Linked DNA regions of Homo sapiens. The protein of the gene in region 1 purifies or fractionates together with the protein of each later gene. This does not show direct contact. Each region holds a gene or a part of one and is shown in the gene's direction. Other genes may lie near its edges.

Region 1 (5,351 bases):
GTCTATCATTGTTGGACATTTGGGTTGGTTCCAAGTCTTTGCTATTGTGAATAGTGCCACAATAAACATACGTGTGCATGTGTCTTTATAGCAGCATGATTTATAATCCTTTGGGTATATACCCAGTAATGGGATGGCTGGGTCAAATGGTATTTCTAGTTCTAGATCCCTGAGGAATCACCACACTGACTTCCACAATGGTTGAACTAGTTTACAATCCCCCCAACTGTGTAAAAGTGTTCCTATTTCTCCACATCCTCTCCAGCACCTGTTGTTTCCTGACTTTTTAATGATCGCCATTCTAACTGTTGTGAGATGGTATCTCACTGTGGTTTTGATTTGTATTTCTCTGATGGCCAGTGATGATGAGCATTTTTTCATGTGTTTTTTGGCGGCATAAATATCTTCTTTTGAGAAGTGTCTATTCATATCCTTTGCCCACTTTTTGATGGGGTTGTTTGTTTTTTTCTTGTAAATTTGTTTGAGTTCATTGTAGATTCTGGATATTAGCCCTTTGTCAGATGAGTAGGTTGCAAAAATTTTCTCCCATTCTGTAGGTTGCCTGTTCATTCTGATGGTGGTTTCTTTTGCTGTGCAGAAGCTCTTTAGTTTAATTAGATCCCATTTGTCAATTTTGGCTTTTGTTGTCATTGCTTTTGGTGTTTTAGACATGAAGTCCTTGCCCATGCCTATGTCCTGAATGGTATTGCCTAGGTTTTCTTCCAGGGTTTTTATGGTTTTAGGTCTAACATGTAAGTCTTTAATCCATCTTGAATTAATTTTTGTATAAGGTGTAAGGAAGGGATCCAGTTTCAGCTTTCTACATATGGCTAGCCAGTTTTCCCAGCAAAATTTATTAAATAGGGAATCCTTTCCCCATTGCTTGTTTTTGTCAGTTTGTCAAAGATCAGATGGTTGTAGATATGTGGCATTATTTCTGAGGGCTCTGTTCTGTTCCATTGGTCTGTATCTCTGTTTTGGTACCAGTACCATGCTGTTTTGGTTACTGTAGCCTTGTAGTATAGTTTGAAGTCACAGGCTAGCCACATTTTAAGTGTTCTGTAGCCTTATGTGGTTAGTTACTGCCATGTTAAACAGTGCAGACCTAAGCCATAGTTGATGGTTTTTAAACTTGAGCTTGCATCAGGATCACCTGGAAGGCTTGTTATAATACAGATCGCTGGGCTCCACTTCCAGAGTTTCTGATTCATAGGTCTGAATGGAGCTTGAAAATTTGCATTTCTAACAAGTTCCTTAATGATGCTAATGATGCTGATCTGGGAACCACACTTTGAGAACCATGGCCACAGTTCTTTCAAAATCCAACTTTGGAACCATTTTACCACTGTATTAACATGAGTGATCAAGAACTGTCCCTAGGTATTGTTGCTATTGTACCACAATACTGTCGTATTATTGCAGTTTATAAAATATTGAAAATCTCCATTTAACTCATGGTTAATATTGAGTAATTATTCATGTGGATGAGTAGTTCTTAGATCTTCATGTCTATTACTCTCTGAGTGCTTCTTTCCAGGAGGCTGGACAGGGAAGAGACATTTATTGGCTTGTTTGTTCTTAGTGAGTATTTACAGAGCTATATTAATACCATATGTATATGCATGCTCTGATCCTTAGGTAGAAAATAGTTCTTTTCAAGTTGACAAACTGTCAATCAATAAATTGATAATCTGCCCAGTATAGATTCAAGGCTCTAAGAGCAATTAGTTTGATTTTTAATGTATTTCAAAAACATTGAACTTTAAAATATTAAGTGAATAATAGTCCACTGTTTTTGAGCTCAGTGAGAAGTTTTTTAAAAAATTACACTTCATGGTTTTTTAAGCCATGACATGAATTTATCTCTGAATAAGTTCAGAGATTGTATTCAGGTGAGCAAGTCCTGGCCACCAAATTGTTGATGATTCTGATCATTTGTGAAAGATGTAGTTTCCTCCTATCCCTACATGCTTAAATATTTCATTTCCCTTGTTTTATTTCTGAAGAAAAACAATGAGGAGTTAATACCTGATCTTTAAACTTTGTTTTTGTCACAAGAGTACAAAAACAGCATCTGAGCCTCCATTGGCCCCTCCTGTGTCTGAAGAAGAAGATGAAGAGGAAGAAGAAGAAGAAGATGAAAATGAGCCACCACCAGTTATCGCACCAAGACCAGAGCATACAAAATCAGTAAGTCACAAAGGACTATTTCCAAATGATTCAAAAGATGCCCTTTGGAATAGTCATAGAGTTAGAATATAGTTAATCAGCTAGTACCTATTAAGCATCTTTTATGTTCCAAGAGCTAAAGTATAAAATATGACCAAGGTTTTGAGGATACTGTTTGAGGATACAAGGTTAGCACATTAAACAATTAGAGAATAATACCAAACAATACATAAATAACTGCTAAGTAATAAAAATGTTGGAGAAGTTAAGGTAAGGAAGGAAATCCATGTAAACCAGGTAGGAAGAGTTGCATAAACAGAGATCCTCAGACCAGAATTAGCAAGGCATGTATAGGGACATCCAAAGACTAGCTCCCATGATCTTTCAACAGTGTTGTACTTTCAGCTACTCAAAGTCCTTTTTTTTTTTAAGAAAATACCACTTGTCTTTAAAAATTCATTGATATTACAATACATTGACTCCACACTCTTTCCTTGGCCTGCTGTTTTAATTGCAGAGCTTTTTGGTTTTTTTAGATCTATACTCGTTCTGTGGTTGAATCCATTGCTTCACCAGCAGTACCAAATAAAGAGGTCACACCACCCTCTGCTGAAAATGCCAATTCCAGTACTTTGTACAGGAACACAGATCGGCAAAGAAAAAAATCCAAGATGACAGATGAGGAGATCTTAGAGAAGCTAAGTGAGTACTTCTTGCCATGATTACTTTCTACACGGGAGTGTTTCTCATAAGCCATTTAAAATGGGAATTGATCCTTTGGAAGTTTTAATCTGCTTATATGAACTCCAGACTTCCCAAAATCATGAGATGAAAAATTTGAGACTCACTGCATATGCCAGAACACTTTCTCCCTTCCACTCCTAATTTGACAGGAACTAAATATTTTTACTTGAAGGAATCAATTGAGGTGAAAATTGATAAGACAAATTAAGTAGCAAGTTTTAAGATTACATCTTCAAAAGAGAATAGTCTGATAAAATATGTTATGATCATAACCCAAGGGCTCTCAACTAATCAGTGATGATAGATATGTCAACCTCAAAGCCCAACACAGTCAATCAAAACTTGGAACAACAAATAATATAGCTTTTTCCCTTAATTCAGAAGCATTTATATGTGGCAGGAGAGACAGAACTAGCAAATGCTAGTAGCTTCCTTCCACAATGTCATTAGTGTGTACATGCTCGTGTGTACACACTTGTTGCCCCAGTTTTATAAAACACTTACCTTCTAGTTACTTTTCTGGGTCAAGAAGATAAAAAAAAATGGATTATCTGCTGAAAAGTCAAAGGTTTGTAAAGCATATTCATTAAACTCATACTATAAAAGCATCTAACAAATTGCTAGATATCAGCAATAAGTGCCCCCCCCAACCCCAGTTTGACTAACTCCTACTTATCCTTCAATACTCAGCTCAAAAGTTGCCTCCTCAGAAGATGTTGCTTGTCCCTCCCAGTCCATGTTAAGGGCATCTCTTCCTTACCACTTTTACTGGAGCAAATATCAAACCATATTAGTCTGACTTCTTTACTAGACTGTGAGATTCTCAAGAGCAGGGACTGTGCCCTTTTTTCCCTATATGTCCAACCCCTAGTTCATACCCATTACATAAAGGCATACAGCAAATGCTTGTTGAGTGAGTGAATGAAAAAAATAAGTAAACAAATACATCTTTACTGAGTTCCTACTTGTCTGTTCTGTGCAAGAAACCTTGGAGGACACAATAGAATGAAACTTTCCTGTCATCAAGAAATTCAATCTTTTTTGGAAAATACGATTTAATAGTATGATACAATTAGAGCATAAGATAATCTCGTTTCATGCATATTTTTATTTAAAAGACCTCAGAAAAGGAAGACAGTAATTCCCACTATAGGCCACAGGGAGGCTCTGCAGAGGTGGTGGTAGGATGATTTTGCCCTCCAAAGGACATTTAGCAATGTCTGGAGAATATTTTTATTGTCCTGATTCAGAGACTGCTAGTAGCATATAATGGGTAGAGGCTAAGGATGCTTCTAAAACCCCAACAGTGCACAGGACGGCTGCCCTCCATCCACTTTACAGTAAAGTATTATTCAGTCCAAAATGTCAACAGTACTGAGATTGAGGCATTTGAGTTAGATGCATTTGGAAAGGCAAAGGTCGGAGTTGCAGCTGTCAGTTAAAACTCAGAACTACAATTGCTAGATTTTTGCTGACTTTACTATTCATGATTAAATATGCCACTAGCACTGATACTAACCATTTGCTGTAATAACAGCAGTAATAATTCTCATTTATTGGGCACCTTCTGGGTGGGCCACTTTACATACATTATCATAGTTTCACAGTAATTCCTTGCAGCTGATTCTAATATCCTCATTTTACAGACCAGTGAATGAAAGTAAGCTTTAAAAGGCTTAACTGACCAAGTCACCAAACCAATGTGTGGCACAACCAAAGTTTGAACTGAGACCAGTTTACCTTCAAAGCTTACACTTTTTCCATTACCTACCTACTTTGCTTCTGCATATCCGAACTGTCTATTTTTGTAAAAAGGAAGAACTAAATGAAAGAATTGCCTCGATAATTTAAGTTCAATTATTCAGACAATTGGCACGTTTTTCTTTATTTTGCATATGTAGACATGACCTATGTGATTATATCAGATTTTAAAAATCTAACAGCCTTGCCTTAATAAAATGACTCTTATTTGGTATCTGTTTCAAATCTCAATAGATGTATTACAACAAAAATGCTTGTATAGTTTTGTTAGCTGACAGAGAAACAAGCATTATTTTCTTGGACCAAAATCTTGTTTTGCTTGTAAACTCTAGTGGTGCTAGAGCTGTGTCCTTATTATTTTGTTTATTCTGCTCTACACTGAGCAACATGGTGAAGAAGGGGAAGCTAACTTTGATTACATTTGAATTAAGAATTCAGTGGGGTTTTTTTTTTCTCTACTGGACTTCATGCTTGGGCATAGAGAGAGTCATTTTCCCTCTAGCCAGCAGGCCACTTGTGACTGCCAACCTTACATTGGATTTGTAGATTTTGGCAGGGTGAACCTGCTGAGAAGTGGAGCAGTGCTTCTCATGAAGCAGATTCAGTGAACTATACTCCAAAGTCCACAAAGGCAGACTTTCCTGCTCCTGCTCCACCATTACCCTCTCTGTGCCTTC
Region 2 (5,351 bases), on another chromosome or scaffold:
TTATACCATCCTTAAGAGTTAGGTGTTGAGTACCTGATCTCTTTTAAGAAAGAACATAACAAAACATTTATTTCTTCTACCTCTTTATGCAAAGTGCTTCATGTACATTATGTATCAGTTGGCCCTCACATGAGCCTTATGAGATAATCAGAGCAAATCTTCTCTGAATTTTCCAGGGTCCCACTTAGTAAGCTGATGATTAGATTTAACACAAGACTCCTAGTGCTCTTCTAAACACACTACGTCACTGAGCTCTTTCAAGAAATAGAGTAGCAATGAGAATAAAACCCAAGAAGTCTTGACAAAACTCTTGGATTATGATTCTGATAATGGTACCAAGATGTTTTCACATAAAAATGTGGTAAATATGTGGACTGTGGTGCTACAGGTTAGCCATGCTTTCAAGTTTTGTACAAAGTACTCTATATTCTTACATGCTACAATTGATTTCATTCCTCTAACCTCAAACTAAAACTTCACTTTTCTGCTGTTAAATATGCCTTTTGATCACATAGATACCTCAGTGCGCATCAGCTGGCACTCCTGTCAGAAGACGGTGATGCACAGTAATTGGAAGCAAAGTCTTTGGGGTCAGATCTGCTCCAGTCCCGGCTCTTGTCGATTTTACTAGTGTGACATTTGGCAAATAGCTATCTCTGCGACTTAGTTTCTCCATATATAAAATGGGAATATAATGCCTCACAGTGCTTTCCTAAGGATTAAATCATAAAAATGTGTATGAAGCTCTGCATAACTAGTACCCTGCACAGCAATGCTGCAAAGTGGTAGATGTTATTCTTACTGATGAGTTGCTATGACATTAAGACTTGTTTTATACATTTTATGTTCTTTGCAAAACTGGAGCCCCAGAAAGAATACAAAGTGAGCTTCTGTTCCCACTTCTCCCAGAATAGCCTAGGATGGGCAACCATGTAAAATTCAATAAAAATCCAACCTTCTAACTAACTCGTGGTGTTGGAGAGTATTAAGCATTTGAAAAGTTCAGGTAGAATTTTCATCCTTTTTGAGCTCTTTCCTAGCTGCTTTGCTGTGATATATCTGTCACTCCAGATGAGGGAGTAGTGGTGGAAAAGGAATGCATTCTCAGATTCATTGTTGGTAGTTCAAAAGAAAATAAGTAAACCTTATTCATTCTCTGAAGTACTTTCCACCACTACTACAACTGATCCAAGAAAACAATTTCCCATTGGATGGTATTATTCAGAGTGTTATTAACAATCAGTCCTGAATTTTTCAGAATAGTACTAAAGTTGTCTTTTTTTTTTAATGGGTTCCTTCCTTCAAGGTTATAATAAAGCTTTTTTATAACCTTCAAAGAATACAAAGTGGAATTTGTAATTTATAGGATATACATTCCTAGTTTACAGGTAACTATTTAAAGCTGCCAAATTTAGATAAAGATGCCTCCCCTTTAAATTGCCCCCTTTAAATTCTATGGCATGTCTCACTTAAGAGTTACAAATATTCAGAATATTCATGGCAAACATGGCAAACGGCAGTGAGGGAATCTAAGTGGTCAAATTCCTAGAAATACTTGTCCTCAGCACCACTAGGTGGCAGTAGTTGGTTGAGGCTGTGAATGATCGGTAACATAATCACTAGTAGTGAAGCCATCACAGATGCTAGCAATGACTTAGGAGTCTCCCACAGCTGGTCAGACAGGCATTCTGTGAAGCAGATGGCCAGTGGACAGTGTGAGCCTATCAGACTTGAATTAATTGAGGAAATAAATGAGCGGAATGAAGTATACAGACCTTTGCTTGGTAAAAGAATAATTTGGAGAGGGGACTAGCATCTTACCACCTGGAGTAAAAAATGGTATCATAAAAGATCTATTCAAGCAATATTCCAAAAGCCTTCTGAATTCTTTCTAGTGCTCCTTTTGTATATCATTGATAGAGAATTCATCTCATGTTTTCTTAGCTAAAGAAGCACACAAACCCCCTGTGTTTATTGAGAAGCTCCAAAACACAGGAGTTGCTGATGGGTACCCAGTGCGGCTGGAATGTCGTGTATTGGGAGTGCCACCACCTCAGATATTTTGGAAGAAAGAAAATGAATCACTCACTCACAGCACTGACCGAGTGAGGTAAGACTGCACAATGAGAACCTGATCCTTAACTGTTCAGTCCTAATGATGTATCAAAAGATACATTTTATATAGCATGGAAATCTATGTGTAAAAGCCACATAGATGTTTTGATTTTTGATGAAATCAATCAAAGACAAAAACCATGCGTTACCCAATGTAGGATTAAGCTTTTAGAAGGAAGCTATGGGTGTTTGATCTAATGGTGATTTCTTAAAAGTGTTTATCATTCTATCTAAAAGAAAAGATGAATTCATTTGCTTTAGTGATAAAAGACTATTCAGTGGTTTTTGTAAAGGCAGATCCTCAACTAGGAATTAAGCACACAGATGTATTCAACTCTTGACGTCTGTTCTTTCTCCCATTAACTTTAATGGAGCTAGTAATCTCTACAGAATAAGTATGACCCTATTATCAGCTACTTGCACAATTCTGTTTCTAATGATCTAATTAAAAATGATGCTTCATGTCCAAAGCCACTTTTAAAAAATTTAGAACCCTAATGACTTTATCCTTTTCTCCAGCATGCACCAGGACAACCACGGCTACATCTGCCTGCTCATTCAGGGAGCCACAAAAGAAGATGCTGGGTGGTATACTGTGTCAGCCAAGAATGAAGCAGGGATTGTGTCCTGTACTGCCAGGCTGGACGTTTACAGTGAGTGCCACTTCATCTCATTTCATTGCGTTTACTCATTAAATTATGAAAAATTAGACATCTGGACAGCAAATCACATTACTCTTTATAAACAACTATTGTGTTTTATTTGTCAAAAAAATTCATATTGCTCTCTCTCTCTTTCTATTTGTAGTTTCTCGACATTAATAGTGAACCACACCAGGAGAACAAATACCCAAGTATCATTCAGGAACTTTGAATTATTAGCAAAATATGCATGTTGATTTCTCTTACATTGGCTAGTTAGTTGTGGCTTCCTTACTCAAGCATCCTTAGGAGTTAACAGTAGGCAAAGGCATAACCATGTTTTTCACATGTTCTTGTTACTGTGTTCTGCAAATGACTGCCTTTTAACATTTCTTCCTATATTCTATCGCAGTGTCCTAATGCACTCTAAACGTGTGTTCCATTGATCCTGGAATGCGTACTTTTGTGGCTTAGTGCTTTTCTCATTAATATATCTTAAGCAGCCAGCAGTAGACTTGTGTTTGTATATTTGTGTACATGCATCCCAAATTTAAAGAAAATTATTCCTATTGAATTTACAGTCTAGTACAATCAGCATTATGTTATCCATTGACATAAAAAAAACACTAGAAAAAAATTAAGAATTTATTTAAGAATTTATTTCAGATTTTGCCTCTTCTTGAAATAACTATGTGAGGGTCATCAAGAAATGTGTGGCCTCAACCTTCCCTACTGTACGATTCCTTTCAGTTGATTAGTGTTAAAGCATCCACATCCAGCAGAATTCCTAAGTGCTATAATTATTTTAGAGAAAATATTTTTTAAAAGGAGAGGGGGGATGAGAATTAGGAAGCTTATCAGCTATTCCAAAGGATTCCCTGTGCTGCAGTGTTTACTTAAAAAAAAAAAAGATAAACTACACTTGACCTTTGTAATCTAGCTGCTTTATTCCCACTATCCTGTATAGACAGTAAATCTGCAACATGTGAGTAAAATGCAAAAGTGTTCCTAAATTTTCCATGTTTCTACCATGGATGTGTTCAGGTGCCTTGCATCTATCTAGACATTCTGTATTTATTTGAAATATCTAAAGGCTTTCCAAGTATATCTTGATTAAAAATCTTAATTTACTCTTTTTCTTTGTAGCCCAGTGGCATCAGCAGTCACAGAGCACCAAGCCAAAAAAAGTACGGCCCTCAGCCAGTCGCTATGCAGCACTTTCGGACCAGGGACTAGACATCAAAGCAGCGTTCCAACCTGAGGCCAACCCATCTCACCTGACACTGAATACTGCCTTGGTAGAAAGTGAGGACCTGTAATCCAGCATTCTTGTTAAAGCTGAAACACTGAAACAGCCATTGCCTTGACCAACATATTCCTTTGTCACATTATGTAAAAGGCAGAAACATACCTTTGACTATAAGAAATTAAAAAAAAAACACCAAAATAATATTTTTCTTACTTGATATACCAAACTTAGTTTAAGTAGATAATGCTAATACAAATATACACATTGCACAGAAAATACACATTTACTGTCCAATTTAAAACTTTGGAATTGCTGTGATTAAAGTGATCAAAATGCCAAAATACTAAAGGAAATCAATTGTTCACAGGTAACTACAATTTGTATTATCTACAAGTGCCTTTAAACACAAGATATAGGTGCTGTGTAGCCTGATAGTGTGAAATGTTTAATGAGGGAGTTGTACCACAAACAGTACTACAATGATTCTGAAGCACAGTGTATTCAGACAGATACAGTGAACCAAGTGCAATATGTAAGGATGAAAGAAGAAGAGATGACAAAGAAATCCAAGTAAATGCCTTGTCTTTGCAAATGTTTTTATATTAAATCATAAGGAAGGAACTACTTGCCTTAAATGTTAATATCAAAAGAGTTTTCTAACAAGGTTAATACCTTAGTTCTTAACATTTTTTTTCTTTATGTGTAGTGTTTTCATGCTACCTTGGTAGGAAACTTATTTACAAACCATATTAAAAGGCTAATTTAAATATAAATAATATAAAGTGCTCTGAATAAAGCAGAAATATATTACAGTTCATTCCACAGAAAGCATCCAAACCACCCAAATGACCAAGGCATATATAGTATTTGGAGGAATCAGGGGTTTGGAAGGAGTAGGGAGGAGAATGAAGGAAAATGCAACCAGCATGATTATAGTGTGTTCATTTAGATAAAAGTAGAAGGCACAGGAGAGGTAGCAAAGGCCAGGCTTTTCTTTGGTTTTCTTCAAACATAGGTGAAAAAAACACTGCCATTCACAAGTCAAGGAACCCAGGGCCAGCTGGAAGTGTGGAGCACACATGCTGTGGAGCACACATGCTGTGGAGATTGCAGTGTGTCTGAGGTTTGTGTAGTAGTGGAAGATTTTAGGTATGTAGAGCAAGTTGAAAATGGATTGAGACTGCATGGTGGCATAAATGAGAAATTGCCTGTAGCATCTAGTCTACTTGAAGGAAGTGGAGACATAAGGAGAGACAAAAACAGGTTTGTGCCATAAAGTATTTTTTCAAAGACACCAAGATGTGGTAAATGAAAATTATTAGTTCACTTCCCTGCTGCCATGAAAC
Region 3 (5,351 bases), on another chromosome or scaffold:
TCGGAGATCCTTTCTATTCAGGATAACACAAGTCCCTTGCCGGTAAATTTTCATTTATTATAGTCCTTAAACATGGATGTTTGAGTGCATTTCTGAAAATTAACAGAATCCCACATAAAATAATATGAAAGGAGAATAATATATCCAAGAAAGAGAAAAAATAATGCCTCAATGTTAATCTAAAGATGTTTTTGGAAAGAGGAAGAGAATTGAGAAAATCATCACAGAGGAATGAGTTTTTGAGAACTAAATTTTTTTTATTTTTTTTATTTTTTTTATTTTTTTTTTATTTTTTGAGACAGAGTCACACTCTGTCTCCAAGGCTGGAGTGCAGTGGCACAATCTCGGCTCACTGCAACCTTCACCTCCCAGGTTCAAGCGATTCTCCTGCTTCAGCCTCCCAAATAGCTAGGATTACAGGCACGCACCACCATGCCCAGCTAATTTTTGTATTTTTAGTAGAGACGGGTTTTGTCATGTTGGCCAGGCTGGTCTCAAACTCCTGACCTGAGGTGATTCACCCGCCTTGGCCTCCCAAATTGCTGGGATTACAGGCATGAGCCATCACGCCCAGCCGAGAACTACATTTTTTCTAATGAGCACATGGTCACAGGCAGAGTATTGCATTCACTGGGGATATTCTGATGTTACTGTGGGGGCATCAGAGATGCCTGTTGCAGTTTGACTGGAATGGTACTCAGGCCAGAGATCACCTGAGGAAGGCCAGGTGGCAGCATAGACAAGTCTTCTCAGGGTGACTTTTTAGGGTCACTACTTCCCAGGTCTTATTTTCTGCTGAATAGATTAGGAGATTCAATTATTAGTTTATATAGAGATGATGAAGCTCTAGGGAACCAACTCAAACTAACCAAATTGACAAGTGATTATATATATATTTTAAAAACCTAGGGCAGGTGCAGTGGCTCAGGCCTGTAATTTCAGCACTTTGGAAGGCTGAGGCGGGGGGATCACTTGAAGCCAGGAGTTTGAGACCAGCCTGGGCCATATGGTGAGACCCCCATCTCTACGAAAAATTAAAAAATGAGCAGGGTGTGGTGGTGCGTGCCTATGGTCCCCGCCACTCAGGTGGCTGAAGCAGGAGGATTGCTTAAGCCCAGGTGGTCGAGGCTGCAGTGAGCTATGATTGCGCCACTCCATCCCAGCCTGGGCGACAGAATGAGAGCTTGTCTCAAAAAACAAACAAACAAAAAAAAAACAAAACTCAGAAATCAAATTTACAGTTAAAGCTATCAAGTAAAACAGCTATATTTACTCATATATGCATTCTCTTCCTATGGATAAGTCTATATGGACGTACATTATAATTAAAAGGTTGCTTGATGAGAATGGAATTAGTGTAAGATGAATTAAGTAGATGCTCTTCATAGCTGGTAATTTTGTACTATGATATTTTGATTCATCATTGTTCCCTGTATGAAATAGCCAGAAGCACAGACCTGAAATTTGAGCTCAGGGGTAGTTTACGCCCTAACTGTTCTTTTCTCCAGACACATACACAATTTTAACGATACGAATTTATCTCTCTACTAGGGAACTATTGTCTTTGTTCTCAGTGTTAGATTATAGCTGTAGGCTCCTAAGTGGTCTCCTGCCCTTTGCCCCACTGCAGTCTGTTCTCAAGCAGCCAGGGTCACCTTTAAAAACTAAAGTCAGACCCTGTCATTCTTCTACTCAAAACCCCAAAATGACTCCCATCTCATTTGGAGTAAAAGCCATAGTTTCATGTTGATCTTTCTGGGGTGACCATATATCCTGGTTTACCTGAAAGAGTCCTGGGTTTATGCTTGTTTTTCTCACATCCTATTAACTTTACTTTTTACCCCAGATCTTCAATTTTATTTAAAGTTTTCTTATCAGTATTTGCATTAAGTAAGCCACTATGGCTTAACAGACCTCCTTCCAGCTTCTTCCATGGTCTCATCTAGCAGCGTATGAAACACATATTCAGTGAACAGTGCTCTTTTTTTTTTTTTTGAGATGGAGTCTCTTTCTGTCGTGCAGGCTGGAGTGCAGTGGTGCAATCTTGGCTCACTGCCACCTCTGCCTCCCAGGTTCAAGTGATTCTCCTGCCTCAGCCTCCTGAGTATCTGGGACTACAGGCATGCACCACCATGCGCAGCTAATTTTTGTATTTTTAGTAGAGACAGGATTTCACCATGTTGACTAGGCTGGTCTTGTACTCCTGACCTCAGGTGATTTGCCTGCCTCAGCTTCCCAAAGTGCTGGGATTACAAGCACGAGCCACTGTCCCCAGCCAAATTCTGACTTAATTATGGTTAAATGCAAAAGATGGCTAATGATAACTTGTCTTTTTTCTTGATTCTGTTCAGATGAAACCTAGCTAGCAGCAACCTTTCAAGAATTATATGCAGGGTGCTGCCTGTTAAAGCTAAGAGCTCAAGCACAAGTACCTCTTCTGATCTTAGGTGGTAGCAGAAGAATTTCTGAGGCTTTTCCCCCTGCTGGCCACTTTGTGAACCACCACTCATGCCCTCATGTGGTCGTGTGGTGGGTGGCCTGTGAGATGCGTGGAACCTCCTCAGAGTCAGTAGAAAATGGGAGAAATTGTGGCTTAATGTCATACAAATTATGTTTAGGAAATAGAGGCTAAGTAATTTTGCCATAGAGTATAGTGTAACCTAATTGTTTTATTAAAGCAGTTTTGTTATTATTTGTATATGTGAAGCTCTATTTGTTTTATTATATGGTAATGCCTTTTGAATTTTACAATAAACCCTTTCAGCAGTTAGCTCAAAACAAAACCCACATGTTTAATTGTCTCAAGAAAGCTGATAATGAATATGCAACGTGCAGAAAATATTTTTCAATATTTACCATGTACCATGCAGGCAAGTAGAAAGATCACTATCCCTTTGAAAACCAGAAGGTACAAATATGGTGAAGCAGCTTTGGCATCTATTTCCAAAGTTAATAATTTAAGAAGAATATGCCTTAAAATGACTTCAACACGGCAGCTGCAGGAGGCCTATGTACATGTCATTGTGAAGCACACCTTCCCATTAGTATCAAATAACTCATAAATTAATTTTGCTCATTTTCAATTCCAAGTTTTCTTGTACTTGTAAGTAAACTGGTAATAATTAATGAGTGATTTTCCTTTGCAAACCTTCAAATAATGTTTTTTATAATAATTTCCTTAGAGGTCTCAATTCAAAAATGTATTAATTCTGAAATGTTTCAATTTTGTTTTTTATCTAATTCAAACAATCAAAATAAAATATGTGAAAATTTATTTCCTAGTCAAAAAGTGAAACATCTGACATTGTTAATGCCACTGTAAATTTAGTTGAAAAGCTCAACATTGAAGGTAAACTGTTGTTTTTGTTGTAAGAATATGAATACAAATGTTAATAGAGCACAGCATTGTGTTAAAAATGTTCTTACCAAGTTAACAAGCTATGAAGCAGAAATGTACTTGGAATTGGTTGTAATGTGCACAAAATTTGTGACTGCATTCAAACAAGCTGCGGTATTCTGTCAGTCAAAACAGAAACTAAAATTGTCAAAATGTATAAATTATAAATATATATATACACACACACACACACACACACAGATTTTATAAGTAACTGATCTACAAAACTTTTCTGACAGAAGCTGATATTGAACACTACCATGCAAGGAAACATTTCAGAATGACTATATGTATATTCCTGTCTGTGTTGCATGTCATCAATTGGATTTTGGGAATGCCTGAGCCTTTGAAAAACCACTTTGTAAAGCAACCCAAATTTAGATTGCATTATGTTCAAGACCAGTTGGAAATTTTTAATCGATTACTGAATGAATGTAGCATGAAAATTCAGCTTTTGAAGCTTTTAGCAAGTTACAATTATGTAAAATAAGGCTTGCAAAGGAAGAAGCTCAAATTTCTCCCTACAAAAGCGAAGAAGGAGTTGAACAAATCAAAAGATGAAAGCAGATATGGTTTAATTATCTATTTTGACAATTGTGCTTCAGAAAAATCTTGACTTTGATGTATTTTGACTTCTAATTTTATTTGGATAAATTTTTATTCTCTACCAAAATGGAGAAAAATTGTGAAAGTCTATGATTTTGCAGTATCTAGATTTGGTGAAATGTTGAAACAATCACAGATATAGACAACTTGAAAGTTTTATCTTGTAAGAAATTATTGAGCAAAAGTGCTTTGAATGAAGGTAGAAAGACAGCACCTATGACGATATTGGCCTGAAATATTTACATATTTTAATCTAAAAAATGAGAAGATTCTTCATTTAGCAGAACTTACAGGTTCATCAGTATCTAGAGAGGAAATGTGTTCTCAGTTAAAAACATATAGTGAAGCATCAATTAAAGTTGTCCATAATTTCAAATATATTAACCATAAAATGAAGTTTTGAAAAAGATTGCAGTTTTATAAAAAAATAACTGTTTAAATAAAAAACGAAAAAAAACACATGTTCCTGAAAAATGTCCACATCCCAATGCTAGAGACAATAATATCTAAATAACCAATTAAGGTATGTGAATACATATAAAGAATAATTGTCTGTACCATTAAAAATGTTCAGATAATCAATTTTTTGTTGTTGTTGAGACAGAGTGTCACTCTGTTGCCCAGGCTGGAGTTCAGTGGCATGATCTTGGCTCGCTGCAACCTCCGCCTCCTGGGTTCAAGCAATTCTCCTGTCTCAGCCTCCCGAGTAGCTGGGACTACAGGCACCCACCACCATACCTGGCAAATTTTTTTGTATTTTTAGTAGAGACAGGGTTTCACCATGTCTGGTCACATGACACCAGGCTGGTCTCAAATTCTCCTGACCTCAAATGATGCACGTGCCTCAGCCTCCCAAAGTGCTGGGATGATAGGCGTTAGCCACTGTGCCTGGCCAATATTTTTTTAAAGTTGCTTGAATGTTCATAACTTTGTATCACTATCACTTTAAGATATTTCAGGAAATTTTTATTTTGAAAATAAATTTTGGATAGAATTATCTTATAGGTCCACCAATATAATAAGACCAAATTCAGGTCAATAAACACATTTTTTTTTTTTTTGAGACCGAGTCTCGCTCTGTCACCCAGGCTGGAGTGCAGTGGCATGATCTCAGCTCACTGCAATCTCTGCCTCCCGGGTTCAAGCAATTCTCCAAGCCTCAGCCTCCTGAGTAGCTGGGATTACAGGCACGCAACACCACTCCCAGCTAAATTTTTATAGTTTTAGTAGAGATGGGGTTTCACCATGTTAGCCGTGATGATCTCGATCTCCTGACCTCGTGATCCGCCTGCCTCAGCCACCCAAAGTACTGGGATTACGGGCGTGAGCCACCACGCCCGTCCAATAA

Evidence for each region. The genes of interacting proteins can lie anywhere in the genome.
Region 2: the proteins of PAK3 (region 1) and PALLD purify together in Homo sapiens (affinity purification with mass spectrometry, with the first as the bait; one large-scale study listed by BioGRID). This does not show direct contact.
Region 3: the proteins of PAK3 (region 1) and LPXN purify together in Homo sapiens (co-immunoprecipitation; one large-scale study listed by IntAct). This does not show direct contact.

The regions. Positions count from the first base shown.
Region 1 is NC_000023.11:111,160,857-111,166,207, forward strand, and holds part of PAK3 (serine/threonine-protein kinase PAK 3), read left to right. Parts: intron 1-2,058; coding exon 2,059-2,190; intron 2,191-2,705; coding exon 2,706-2,871; intron 2,872-5,351. UniProt on the Homo sapiens protein: Serine/threonine protein kinase that plays a role in a variety of different signaling pathways including cytoskeleton regulation, cell migration, or cell cycle regulation.
Region 2 is NC_000004.12:168,922,311-168,927,661, forward strand, and holds part of PALLD (palladin), read left to right. Parts: intron 1-1,944; coding exon 1,945-2,110; intron 2,111-2,634; coding exon 2,635-2,768; intron 2,769-2,922; coding exon 2,923-2,936; 3' UTR 2,937-2,968; exon of another isoform or gene 2,969-2,974; intron 2,975-3,902; coding exon of another isoform or gene 3,903-4,075; 3' UTR 4,076-5,351. UniProt on the Homo sapiens protein: Cytoskeletal protein required for organization of normal actin cytoskeleton. Roles in establishing cell morphology, motility, cell adhesion and cell-extracellular matrix interactions in a variety of cell types.
Region 3 is NC_000011.10:58,565,247-58,570,597, reverse strand, and holds part of LPXN (leupaxin), read left to right. Parts: coding exon 1-42; intron 43-5,351. UniProt on the Homo sapiens protein: Transcriptional coactivator for androgen receptor (AR) and serum response factor (SRF). Contributes to the regulation of cell adhesion, spreading and cell migration and acts as a negative regulator in integrin-mediated cell adhesion events.